3 linked regions of the Homo sapiens genome follow. The protein of the gene in region 3 purifies or fractionates together with the protein of the main gene of each other region. This does not show direct contact. Each region holds a gene or a part of one and is shown on either strand. Other genes may lie near its edges. The genes, in order: FBXO21, ASB3 and ZBTB46.

The links.
Region 1: the proteins of ZBTB46 (region 3) and FBXO21 purify together in Homo sapiens (affinity purification with mass spectrometry, with the first as the bait; one large-scale study listed by BioGRID). This does not show direct contact.
Region 2: the proteins of ZBTB46 (region 3) and ASB3 purify together in Homo sapiens (affinity purification with mass spectrometry, with the first as the bait; one large-scale study listed by BioGRID). This does not show direct contact.

The regions. Positions count from the first base shown.
Region 1 is NC_000012.12:117,180,396-117,184,046, forward strand, and holds part of FBXO21 (F-box only protein 21), read right to left. Parts: intron 1-3,651. UniProt on the Homo sapiens protein: Substrate-recognition component of the SCF (SKP1-CUL1-F-box protein)-type E3 ubiquitin ligase complex.
Region 2 is NC_000002.12:53,717,369-53,721,019, forward strand, and holds part of ASB3 (ankyrin repeat and SOCS box protein 3), read right to left. Parts: intron 1-3,651. UniProt on the Homo sapiens protein: Probable substrate-recognition component of a SCF-like ECS (Elongin-Cullin-SOCS-box protein) E3 ubiquitin-protein ligase complex which mediates the ubiquitination and subsequent proteasomal degradation of target proteins. Recognizes TNFRSF1B.
Region 3 is NC_000020.11:63,789,623-63,793,273, forward strand, and holds part of ZBTB46 (zinc finger and BTB domain-containing protein 46), read right to left. Parts: intron 1,169-3,651; 5' UTR 1,136-1,168; coding exon 199-1,135; intron 1-198. UniProt on the Homo sapiens protein: Functions as a transcriptional repressor for PRDM1.

The sequences.
Region 1 (3,651 bases), on a different chromosome or scaffold from region 3:
AAATATAAAATACCTTTTGAGTTCACACTGGCACTTCTAATTCAAAAATATATGTCTCTGACCTTCTTCTATCTTATATCTATGTCTTCTTTATTCCAGGAGAATTCTGCTTCTCCAGGATATCACAGGTGGTAAAATTAGAATATCACATCGTTATTCATTTACTTCATTCCACATCTCTCTCTCATACACACACACCAGCCCTCAGAATAACAAGACTAATGTTTTCATCACTTTTTTTTTTCTTTTGAGACGGAGTCTCGCTCTGTCGCCAGGCTGGAGTGCAGTGGTGCGATCTCAGCTCACTGCAATCTCCGCCTCCCGGGTTCAACCTAGTCTCCTGCCTCAGCCTCCCAAATAGCTGGGATTACAGGCTGCATCACCACACCAAGCTAATTTTTTTTTTTTTATGTATTTTTAGTAGAGACGAGGTTTCACCATGTTGGCCAGGATGGTCTCAGTCTCCTGACCTTGTGATCCGCCTACCTCAGCCTCCCAAAGTGCTGGGATTACTCATCACTTTTATGATTACTGAAAACAGCTAAATATTTTGCATATGTTCTCCCCCACTGTCCATTCATTTTTTAAAACAGATGCATTGTATTTATACTGACATGTCTTACAGACGTTACACATGAAATATTTTCTCCCCTAGAGCCCTCATTTGAATTTAAATCTAAAAATAAATACATGTTTAGTGCTCACTGCCAGTCCTTATATCAGTGTTTCTCTGTTTTGTTTTTTTTGGGGCGGGGAGTGGTTTTTGGTCATTTGAAATTCATTTTCCAGGAGATCTCTCAGGAAGGACTGAAAAGTCACTGAATTCTTGTTAAGTTGTTAAGTTTCTGTGCAGTCTTTGTATCTGGAAGTCAGTTTGGCTGGATATAAAAATCCTTGGTTGACATTTCCTTAGATCATTGAGTATCTTAAGCTATTTTTTCCTTTGGCACAAAAAATTCTGTTGAAAAGTCTGATGATATTCTTATTTTCTTTTCCTTATAAATGACTTTACCTTTTTTGCTTGGATGCTCAAAGGACTTTCCTGTCTTTAAAATCCAGCAATTTTACTAAAGTATGTCTCAGTATTGGTCATTCTGTGACACTTTTCTCAGGTACAATGTATGAATTTATCTATCTATCTATTTATATCTATCTATCTATCTGAGACAGTCTATCGATCGATCGATCTATCTATCTGAGACAGTCTATCTATCTATCTATCTATCTATCTATCTATCTATCTATCTATCTAATCTAGCTATCTATCTATCTGAGACAGAGTCTCACTTTGCCACCCAGGCTGGAGTGCAGCGGCATAATGTCAGCTCACTGCAACCTCCACTTCCCAGGTTCAAGCGATTCTCTTGTTTCAGCCTCTTGAGTAGCTGGGATTACAGGTGCCTGCCACCATGCCCGGCTAATTTTTTGTATTTTCAGTAGAGACGGCGTTTCTCCATGTTGGCCAGGCTGGTCTCGAACTCCTGACCTCAGGTGATCTGCCCACCTCAGCCTCCCAAAGTCATGGGATTACAGGTGTGAGCCACTGTGCCTGGCCCAGTGTATGCCCTTTTAATATGCTGTTTCTAATCTTTATTGTAGGACATACTCGTTTTTAAGACCACATAGCACATCATAAACACAAACTGATTTCAAGCTGATACTTTGGCATTTATGGAAACTACACTTTTTCCTTCCCATGCTTTCCATATCCAAACCATAAGCATTTGCCAGGAATGAAAACAAACAGGGTCTTCCATGAAAACTGGTATCCCAAAATATTTTTAAATGCGGGGTATTCTATCATTTAAAAACAACCTTATTTGTTTGTTGGCTCACACTTATAGTCCTAGTACTTTGGAAGGCCAAGGTGGGAGGATCACTTGAAGTCAAGAGTTCAAGACCAGCCTGGGAAACATAGTGAGACACTGTCTCTACCAAATAAAAATTAGCCAGGCATGATGGTACATGCCTGTATTCCTAGCTACTCAGGAGGCTGAGGCCAGAGGATCCCCTGAACACAGGATTCAAGGTTACAGTGAGCCATGATTGCACCACTGTACTCCAGCCTGGGCAACAGGATGAAACCCTGTCTCAAAAAAACAAACAGGGCTGGGCGTGGTGGCTCACACCTGTAATCCCAGCACATTGGGAGGCCACAGCAAGAGGATCTTTTTTTTTTTTTTTTTTTTTTTGGACCGAGTCTGTCGCCCAGGCTGGAGTGCAGTGGTGCAATCTCAGCTTACTGCAACCTCAGCCTCCCAGGTTCAAGCAATTCTCCTGTCTCAGCCTCCCGAGTAGCCGGGATTACAGGCGTGTGCCACCATGCCCAGCTAATTTTTGTATTTTTAGTAGAGGCAGGGTTTTACCATGTTGGACAGGCTGGTCTTGAACTCCTGACCTCAAGTGATCAACCCGCCTCGGCCTCTCAAAATGCTGTGATTACAGGCGTGAGCCACCATGCCTGGCTGGGAAGATCTCTTGAGGCCAGGAGTTTAGTAACTGCCTGGGCAACAAAGCAAGACTCCATCTATACAAAAAATAGAAAAAATTAGCCAGGTGTGGTGGCAAGTGCCTGTAGTCCTAACTACTCGGGAGGCTGAGGCAGGAGGGTCACTTGAGCCCAGGGGTTTGAGTCTGCAGTGAGCTATGATTGCGTCACAGCATTCCACCCTGGGTGACAAGAGTGAGACTCTGTTTCTAAAACAAACAATCCTTTTTTAAGGTCAAAATATGTGTGTTGGGTAACCTATTCGTATTTATTTCTAAAAACACTATAATATATGTCTTTACTAGCTATGCATTTTCATCTTTTTTGGGAACCTGATATGTAAAATGGCAGTATCTCATTGCTGTTTAACACTTTTTTTTTTTTGAGACGGAGTTTCACTCTTGTCACCCAGGCTGGAATGCAATGGCGCGATCTCGGCTCACTGCAACCTCTGCCTCCCACGCCTCCCAGGTTCAAGCAATTATCCTGCCTCAGCCTCCCCAGTAGCTGGGATTACAGGCACCTGCCACCATGTCTGGCTAATTTTTGTATTTTTTGTAGAGACAGGGTTTCATCATGTTGGCCAGGCTGGTGTCGAACTCCTGACCTCAGATGATCCAAGGACTTGGCCTCCCAAAGTGCTGGGATTACAGGCGTGAGCCACTGCACCCGGCCTATTTAACACTTTTTGAATAGTGTATTAAAAGTTTTCCGTGATTGTTAGATGTTAGGATTTGTTCTTCTGTGAATGTCATCCTCCTAACCTTTGAACATTTTTCAATATCTCTTGAGTTCTACTGACTTCGTTCATGCTCTCTTGGCCATATAGAAGTGTCTGCTCTTTCACTGTCTCCGCATTGTCCTTCTTGGTTAAGGTGGTCTCCCTTAGACTATACAAAGTCTCCTATTTTCTTGAGGAATGTTCACTGTGATCATTTAAAAATTTCAGTTGTTTCATCCTTTGGAAAAATGTTTGCATATGATGCACGTTTTCCTTTCTTCCAGCTGGATATTCAGTTATGTCCAGTACCATTTCTTTAAAAATCCATTTTTTCCCTCTGAGTTTAAATATATTAAATTATCTTTTATTCTGGGATGCATTTGTCAATTATCCTCTGCTACTGATGCAGCTATTTTTATTGAATCACTGTGCTGTTTGGATT
Region 2 (3,651 bases), on a different chromosome or scaffold from region 3:
ATTGACTATACTCTCTATTACATCTCTTTCTTCATAACCACTGCATGATAAATAATGCCTACAATCAGAGAAAAAGGGTCTCTTTCAACAGGTTTCTGAGTTGATATTTAAAATCATAAATGTGAAAGGGAAAAACAATAATATTATAGTGAAAGAAAGAAAAAGAAAAAAATCCCACCTGCATGAAAATAATTACAAAAATTAGAAGTGTGAACATCTCCAGATGAAAAGGAACTACCCCAAGAATTTTGGATTTGTGAAAAATCTAAATATAGTGACACCACTGAAGGATCACAGTCGTGTTCCCGCAATGGTTCCTGACCCAAATGGAAACTCAGAAATGACAGATAAAGAATTCAAAGCAAGGATTGCAAGGAAGCTCAACAAGATCCAGACAAGGTTGAAAATAAACACAAAGAAACTTCTAAAGCAATTCAGGAAATGAAGGCATCTTAAGATAAACATCTTAAAAAGGAATCAATCAGAGCTTCTGGAATTGAAAAACTCACTTAAGGAATTTCAAAATATAACTGCAAGTTTTATTAATAGACTAGGCCAAGCAGAAGGAAGAATTTTGGAGCTTGAAGATCAGTCTTTCAAACTAACCCAGTCAGATAAAAATAAAAATAAAAAATTTTTAATGAAAAAGGCTTTGAGAAATATTTGATAATGTAAAGCAACCAAATCTATGAATTATTGGTATTCCTGAGAGAGAAGGAGAAAAAGTAAATGACCTGGAAAACATATTTGAGGACATAATTTAAGAAAATTTCCCTAATCTTGCCAGAGAGGAAGACATCCAGATAGAAGCAATACAGAGAACTCTCTGTGAACGTGAATATCACCATGGCATACAGTCACCAGACTGTTGAAGGTTAACACTAAAGAAAAAATCTTACAGGCAGCTAGAGAAAAACGTCAGATCACATACAAAAGGAACAGTGGACTTCTCAGCAGAAACCTTACAAGGCAAGAGAGATTGGGGGTCTATTTTCAGCATTCTTAAAGAGAGGACACTACAACCAAGAATTTCATATTCCACCAAACTAAGCTTCACAAACGAAGGAGAAATAAAATATTTTACAGACAAGCAAGCGATAAGACAATTTGTTACCACTAGACCAGTCTTAGCAGAGATCCTTAAGGGACTTTTAAACATGGAAATGAAAGAACAACACTGATACCACAAAAACACACTGAAGTACATAGCCCAAAGACCCCATAATACAATCATACAATAGAAACTGCAAAGCAACCATCTACCAACTTAATAATAGGATCAAAACCTCACATATCAATATTAACCTTGAATGTAAAGGGTCTCTTCAGATCATACAAATCTTTCGCCTTTTACGAAACATCCTGCCTAAAAGGCACACAGCTGCAATTTGGATTAAAAAAAAAAAAAGAAAGAAAAAAGACCCATCCATCTGCTGCCTTCAAGAGACACGTCTCACATGTAACAACACCCATAGGCTCAAAGTAAAGGGTTGAAAAAAGATTTATCAACCAAATGGAAAACAAAAAAGGTCAGGGGTCACTAGTTTTTTATTTTATTTTATTTTATTTTTGAGACTGAGTCTCGCCGTGTCGCCAGGCTGGAGTGCAATGGTGCGATCTCGGCTTACTGCAACCTCTGCCTCCTGGGTTCAAGCAATTCTCCTGCCTCAGCCTCCCGAGTAGCTGGGACTACAGGCATGCACTACCACGCCCAGCTGATTTTTGTATTTTTAGCAGATAGAGACGGGGTTTCACCATGTTGGCCAGGATGGTCTTGATCTCTTGACCTCGTGATCCACCCACCTCGGCCTCCCAAAGTGCTGGGATTACAGGCGTGAGCCACCACGCCCAACCAGGGGTCAATATTCTTATATCAGATAAAACAGACTTTAAATCAGACAACAGAGCCAGGCACAGTGGCTCACGCCTATAAGCCCAGAGCTTTGAGAGGCCGAAGTATGACAGAGCAGGAGTATCACCATCTTGCACAAGCACTGTTATTTTCCAATTCACCTTAATCAAAAACTTCCTAAATCCAAAGCGCATCAGCCTAAATGGCTAAGATCAGCATGATCATAAACAAAAAAAGCATCTCCGACCAGGAACATGCCAAACTCCTCTGCGACCAGAGACATGCTAGCTGCCCTGCTCTGGCTGGGAAGATGCCAGCCCCGAGATAACTCCCTTCCTTCTAGAAAGACGTCAGCCCCAAGATAATCCCCCCTTCACCCAGAGACATTCCAACCTCACCATAAACTTCTCCCCCACACATAAACACTCCAAGCTTGTGATAAGCCCCCTCACCCTAAAACCAATATATACTCATGTACTTAGCCTGTAAGAGAAAGTGCTCCTGATCGAAATCAGCCAGAAACCCTTCTCAGGTTTTATCTAAAGTAAACCTGTCTTTAACTGCCAACCCATCTTTTGTGTTTCTTTCCTCTTTCTTTAACTCTTACAAGGGGGGAGGATCGCTTGAGCTCAGGAGTTCAAGACCAGCCAGGGCAATGTGAAAGGAAAATAAATCTTGGGACCCCCACAATCACTAAGCCAAAGGGAAAAGTCAAGCTGGGAACTGCTTAGCGCAACCCTGCCTCCTATTCTATTCCTAAAAAATAGCTACTAAGATTAGAAAAAGTTACGTACCTCCCTCACAAGGAATTTCCCTGTGGACGAAGGACAGACAGAACTCAAACTCAAAGTCATCCCTCTGCTCACTGGGATAAGTGCATATCTGAGTGCCTCCTTTGGAAAGGCTAATCAGAAACTCAAAAAAAAAAAAAAAGGCAACCATTTGTCTCCTACCTACCTATGACCTGGACATACTCTCCCCACTTTGAGTTGTCCCGCTTTTCCAGACAGAACCAATGTATATCTTATATATGTTGATTGATGTCTCATGTATAAAACGTATAAAACCAAGTTGTGCCCCAACCACTTTGGGCATATGTTGCCAGGACCTCCTGAGGCTGTGTCACAGGCACATGCCCTTAATGTTGGCAAAATAAACTTCCTAAATTGACTGAGATCTCTCTCAGATATTTGGGGTTCACAGCAACACAGTGAGACCCCATTTCTATTCAAGAAAAAATTATATATAAAAAAACCAACAACAGTACAAAAGGACAAAGAAGGTAATTACATAATGATAAAGGGTTCAATTCAATGAGAAGACTTAACTATCCTAAATATACACACACCCAACATTGAAGCATCCAGTTTCATAAAACAAGCTCTTAGAGATCTATAGAGATAGCAATAATGTTGGGAGATGTCAAATCCCATTGACAGCATTAGACAGATCACTGAGGCAGAAAATTAAAAAACAAATTCTGGGTGTAAATTCAACATTTGACCAATTGGACCTAATACACATCTAAAGAACACTCCACTCATCAACCACAGAATATATATTCTTCTCAACAGCACATATAACATACTCCAAGACAGACCACATGCTCGGCCAAAAAGCACATCTCAATAAATTTAAAAAACTGATTCACTTGTGAGGCCGAGATGGGCAGATCACTTGAAGGTCAGGAGTTTGAGACCAAATTGGCCAACACGATGAAACCCCATCTCTACTAAAAATACAAAAAAATTAGCTGGCCACAGGGGTGCGCGCCTGTAATCCCAGGTACTCAGGAGGCT
Region 3 (3,651 bases):
AGGGCCCTGGTGATGCCCTGCCCTTTGAGATGCATTGGCTGCATTCCCAGCGGTCACGACAACCTCCTGTAAGAGGAAGTGACCCTAGAAAGCCACCAGTGTGAGCCTGGACATGCGTCACTGCCTCCGCACAGCACGCGGCCGTGAGGCCTGGACACACTGGGGCAGCTGAGCCCCCGTAACGAGTGAAAGGCTTACTTGAGTCTCGGCTGCTGAACGGCCACCCCGACGTCGGCAGGAAGGACGGCACCGGGGAGCTGGCCCGGCTGTCATCTTCCACCTGCTGTGTGATGTGCCGGACGGTCTCTTTGTTTTTCCGATTCTTCCTTCGGCCCGTGGGCTGCCAGGCATCACCAGCACTCTGCTCTGAGAAAGAGTTCTGTACTGCACCGTCCTTGGCAGAAGGCAGCTCGCTCCCTCCGTACTGAGACGGTGAAACCTGCTCTTCCTTGATGCGCAGAGGCCCGTAGCCCACGTCTCCAGGCCATAGAGGCTGTGAAGAAACATCATCAGGGCCATCGGCCTTGGGCTCCTGATCCTCTTTCCCGTAGCTGCTCCCTCCGTCGTGACAGCTGGCGATGGCCGAGTCTCCGGAAGAATTGGCAGGACTCGTTCGCCGTGCCAGCCACGGGGAGATGCTCCTCCCAGCCATCACGGCCGAGATGAGAGCTTCCGTGCTGCTGCTGGACGAGGCGCCGATCTCGAACTCCGCAAGCTCATCTGAGGCGTCCGACTTGATGCTGATGTCCAGCGCCGCCTTGATGAAGTCGTGGCAGGCTTGCACGATGTCCGTCATCTGCAGGAAGCTGGCGGCTGACATCACCTCGATGACGTTCCTGCTGGTGAGCGCCAGGTGCGCTGAGTACATGAAGTCGATGATGGCCTTGAAGCCCTGGGCCGTGACGATGTCCAGGTGCGTGACCGTGGCCTGCTCCGACGTCTTCTGCACCTGGCAGTAGAGCGTCTTGAAGTAGCGGCTGCTGCCCAGCAGGACGTTCTTGTGCGCCTTGAAGACCTTGCCCTCCACGACCACGCAGACGTCGCACAGGACGCCGTGCTGCCTCTGCTCGTTGAGCTCCCGCAGCAGGTGCCGGTAGTGGGACGTGATTTCCATATCTTCCTTTCGGTTGTTCATTTGGAAGCCCTGGTGTCGCCTCTTCTACAGACTCTGTGGAGGTAAGAACAAGAGTTACCCAAGCTCAGCACAGACAGAGGCCGTGAGAGGACGCCGGGCGGGGCGCAGGAGGGCCATGGGGCACAGAGTGCGGCCAGTGGGAGGACGACCCACGCGAGAGCCCATCCACAGGTGTGCAGCGGGAGGCCTGTGTCTCCGCCTGAAGCAGGGCAGCAAACACCGGAGGGCACCAGTGCGTCCAGGGTGGGACGTCTGCCACGTGTTTCCGTGCTCGAGGCTAATGGGGTTCTGAACAGAATCCCACATACGGCAACTGGCATATCCCAGGAACGATGAGAACACCCAGCCGTGGCTGAGCAACTCTTACCCAAACTGAGAACTCGGTTAAATGACCTACACTGTGGCCATCCCTCACGCTTGAAGAAACATTCTTAAGGAAAAAGAATAAAACTTCCAGGCTGGGCGCGGTGGCTCATGCCTGTAATCCCAGCAATCTGGGAGGCCGAGGAGGGTGGAGCACAAGGTCAGGAGATCGAGACCATCCTGGCCAACATGGTGAAACCCTGTCTCTACTAAAAATACAAAAAAAGCAGCTGGGCATGGTGGCGGGAGCCTGTAGTCCCAGCTATTCAGGAGGCTGAGGCAGGAGAATGGCGTGAACCCGGGAGGCGGAGCCTGCAGTGAGCCGAGATCGCGCCAGTGCACTCCAGCCTGGGCGACAGGGCGAGACTCCATCTCAAAAAAAAAAAAAAAAAAAAAAAACTTCTTACACAAAAAACCACAGAATAAGGAATTAAAGCATTCATAGCCTTAGTCCTGAAAATTTCCAAAACTCTGAGCTCAAACGAGCTGAAGTCTTCTGGAGGAGGGAGGCTTCCTGGCTTAGGCCTGGGTCCCTGCCCAGCACTGGGACAGGGCAGGAGGGAGCTCAGGCCCTGCGGCTGCCAGCGCCCTGGACGTCTGAGACACGACTGGTCTCTGGGTCCCCCTCATCAGAAGACAGCCCTGCCTCACAGAGTCACAGGACACACAGAATCATTTCTGAATTGGGTACACCCCGTCCCGGAGTCTCTCCTGTCTCTCCTTAGACTCAGGGATGTGAGTCCTCCGCCTGTTCTCGTCTGCTGGGGCCGCCCTATCAAGCCTGGGAGGCTCAAACAACAGAAACGTATTCTCAAGTCCAGAATCAGGATGTCGGCCGAGCTGGTGCCTGTTCCAGCCCCTCCCCCAGCCGGCGTTCTGTGTGGAGGCATCGCACGAGCTCTGCCTCTGTCTCAACACGGCTTCTCCCGGTGTGCACGTCTGTGTCCAAATGTCACCCTTTCACAAGGACACCAGTCGTCCGGGAGTAGGGGCCCACCCCCACGGCCTCATCTTAATTAATCATATCCACAGTGACCCTGTTTCCAATAAGGTCACATTCTGGGGTCCTAGGGGGCTAGAACTTCCACAGACAAATCGTAAGGGGACACGTTCACCCCACAGCCCTGCCTGGGAAAGAAACAGTGGTTGGGTCTCTCCCGTTACAAACCCCATTCTCCAGCTGATAAGTCAAGTAGGACTCACCTGAAATGCTAAATGTGTTTAATAGGAGAAAACTAAGCGAGCGTGGGAGTATTACATGTCCTTCCGGCAAGGAGCCCCCACATGCAGCCCTCATGGGGGACGGGGTCGGGGGCTCAGCAGTTTTGTATCACACACTCCTGGGCTCCGACTGGTTACGACATACACACCTTCACTTAGTCATGACAGAATATTTTCTTCTTTTTTTTTTTTTGAGACGGAGTCTCGCTCTGTCCCCCAGGCTGGAGTGCAGTGGTTTGATCTCCGCTCACTGCAAGCTCCGCTCCCAGGTTCATGCCATTCTCCTGCCTCAGCCTCCCGAGTAGCTGGGACTACAGACACCCGCCACCACGCCTGGCTGACATTTTTGTATTTTTAGGAGAGATGGGGTTTCACCATTTTGGCCAGGCTGGTTTCAAACTCCTGACCTCAGATGATCCACCCGCCTCGGCCTCTCAAAGTGCTGGGATTACAGGCGTGAGCCACCACGCCCAGCCTAAAATGTCCTGAGAAAAGTAATTATTCTGTCTCACATTTCACAGGCCGGGAAGATGAGGTAGAAAGGAGAGAGAAGCTTTTGTGCCTGTCTCTGCCTTCAGGGTCCTGGGCCATCCCCTCCTTGGATGGTGTGGGGTTCCCAGGCCCCCACAGCCGGTGTTGCCTGCCGGGAGACGCGCTGCAGAAGACCGGGCCCAGCCTCCCCTTCACTTCCTGCCCGCCGGGCACGAGGGCTGTGACGGCGGTGACCGCTGACCATTACAGGAAGGGCCTCAAGCCCCCAAGATGCCAAGACCAGGCCCCCGCCTGACTCCAGGTGCTGCCTCAACGGCGGCAGAGAACAAAGGCCCCATCCCGCCCCACACTGGCCCCGGGCTTGAGGGCTGGAGGCAAACGCGTGTGGGTGCGAGCAGAACAAGGAGCTGCCGAAAAGGAAGAGATGACATTCGGAGCAG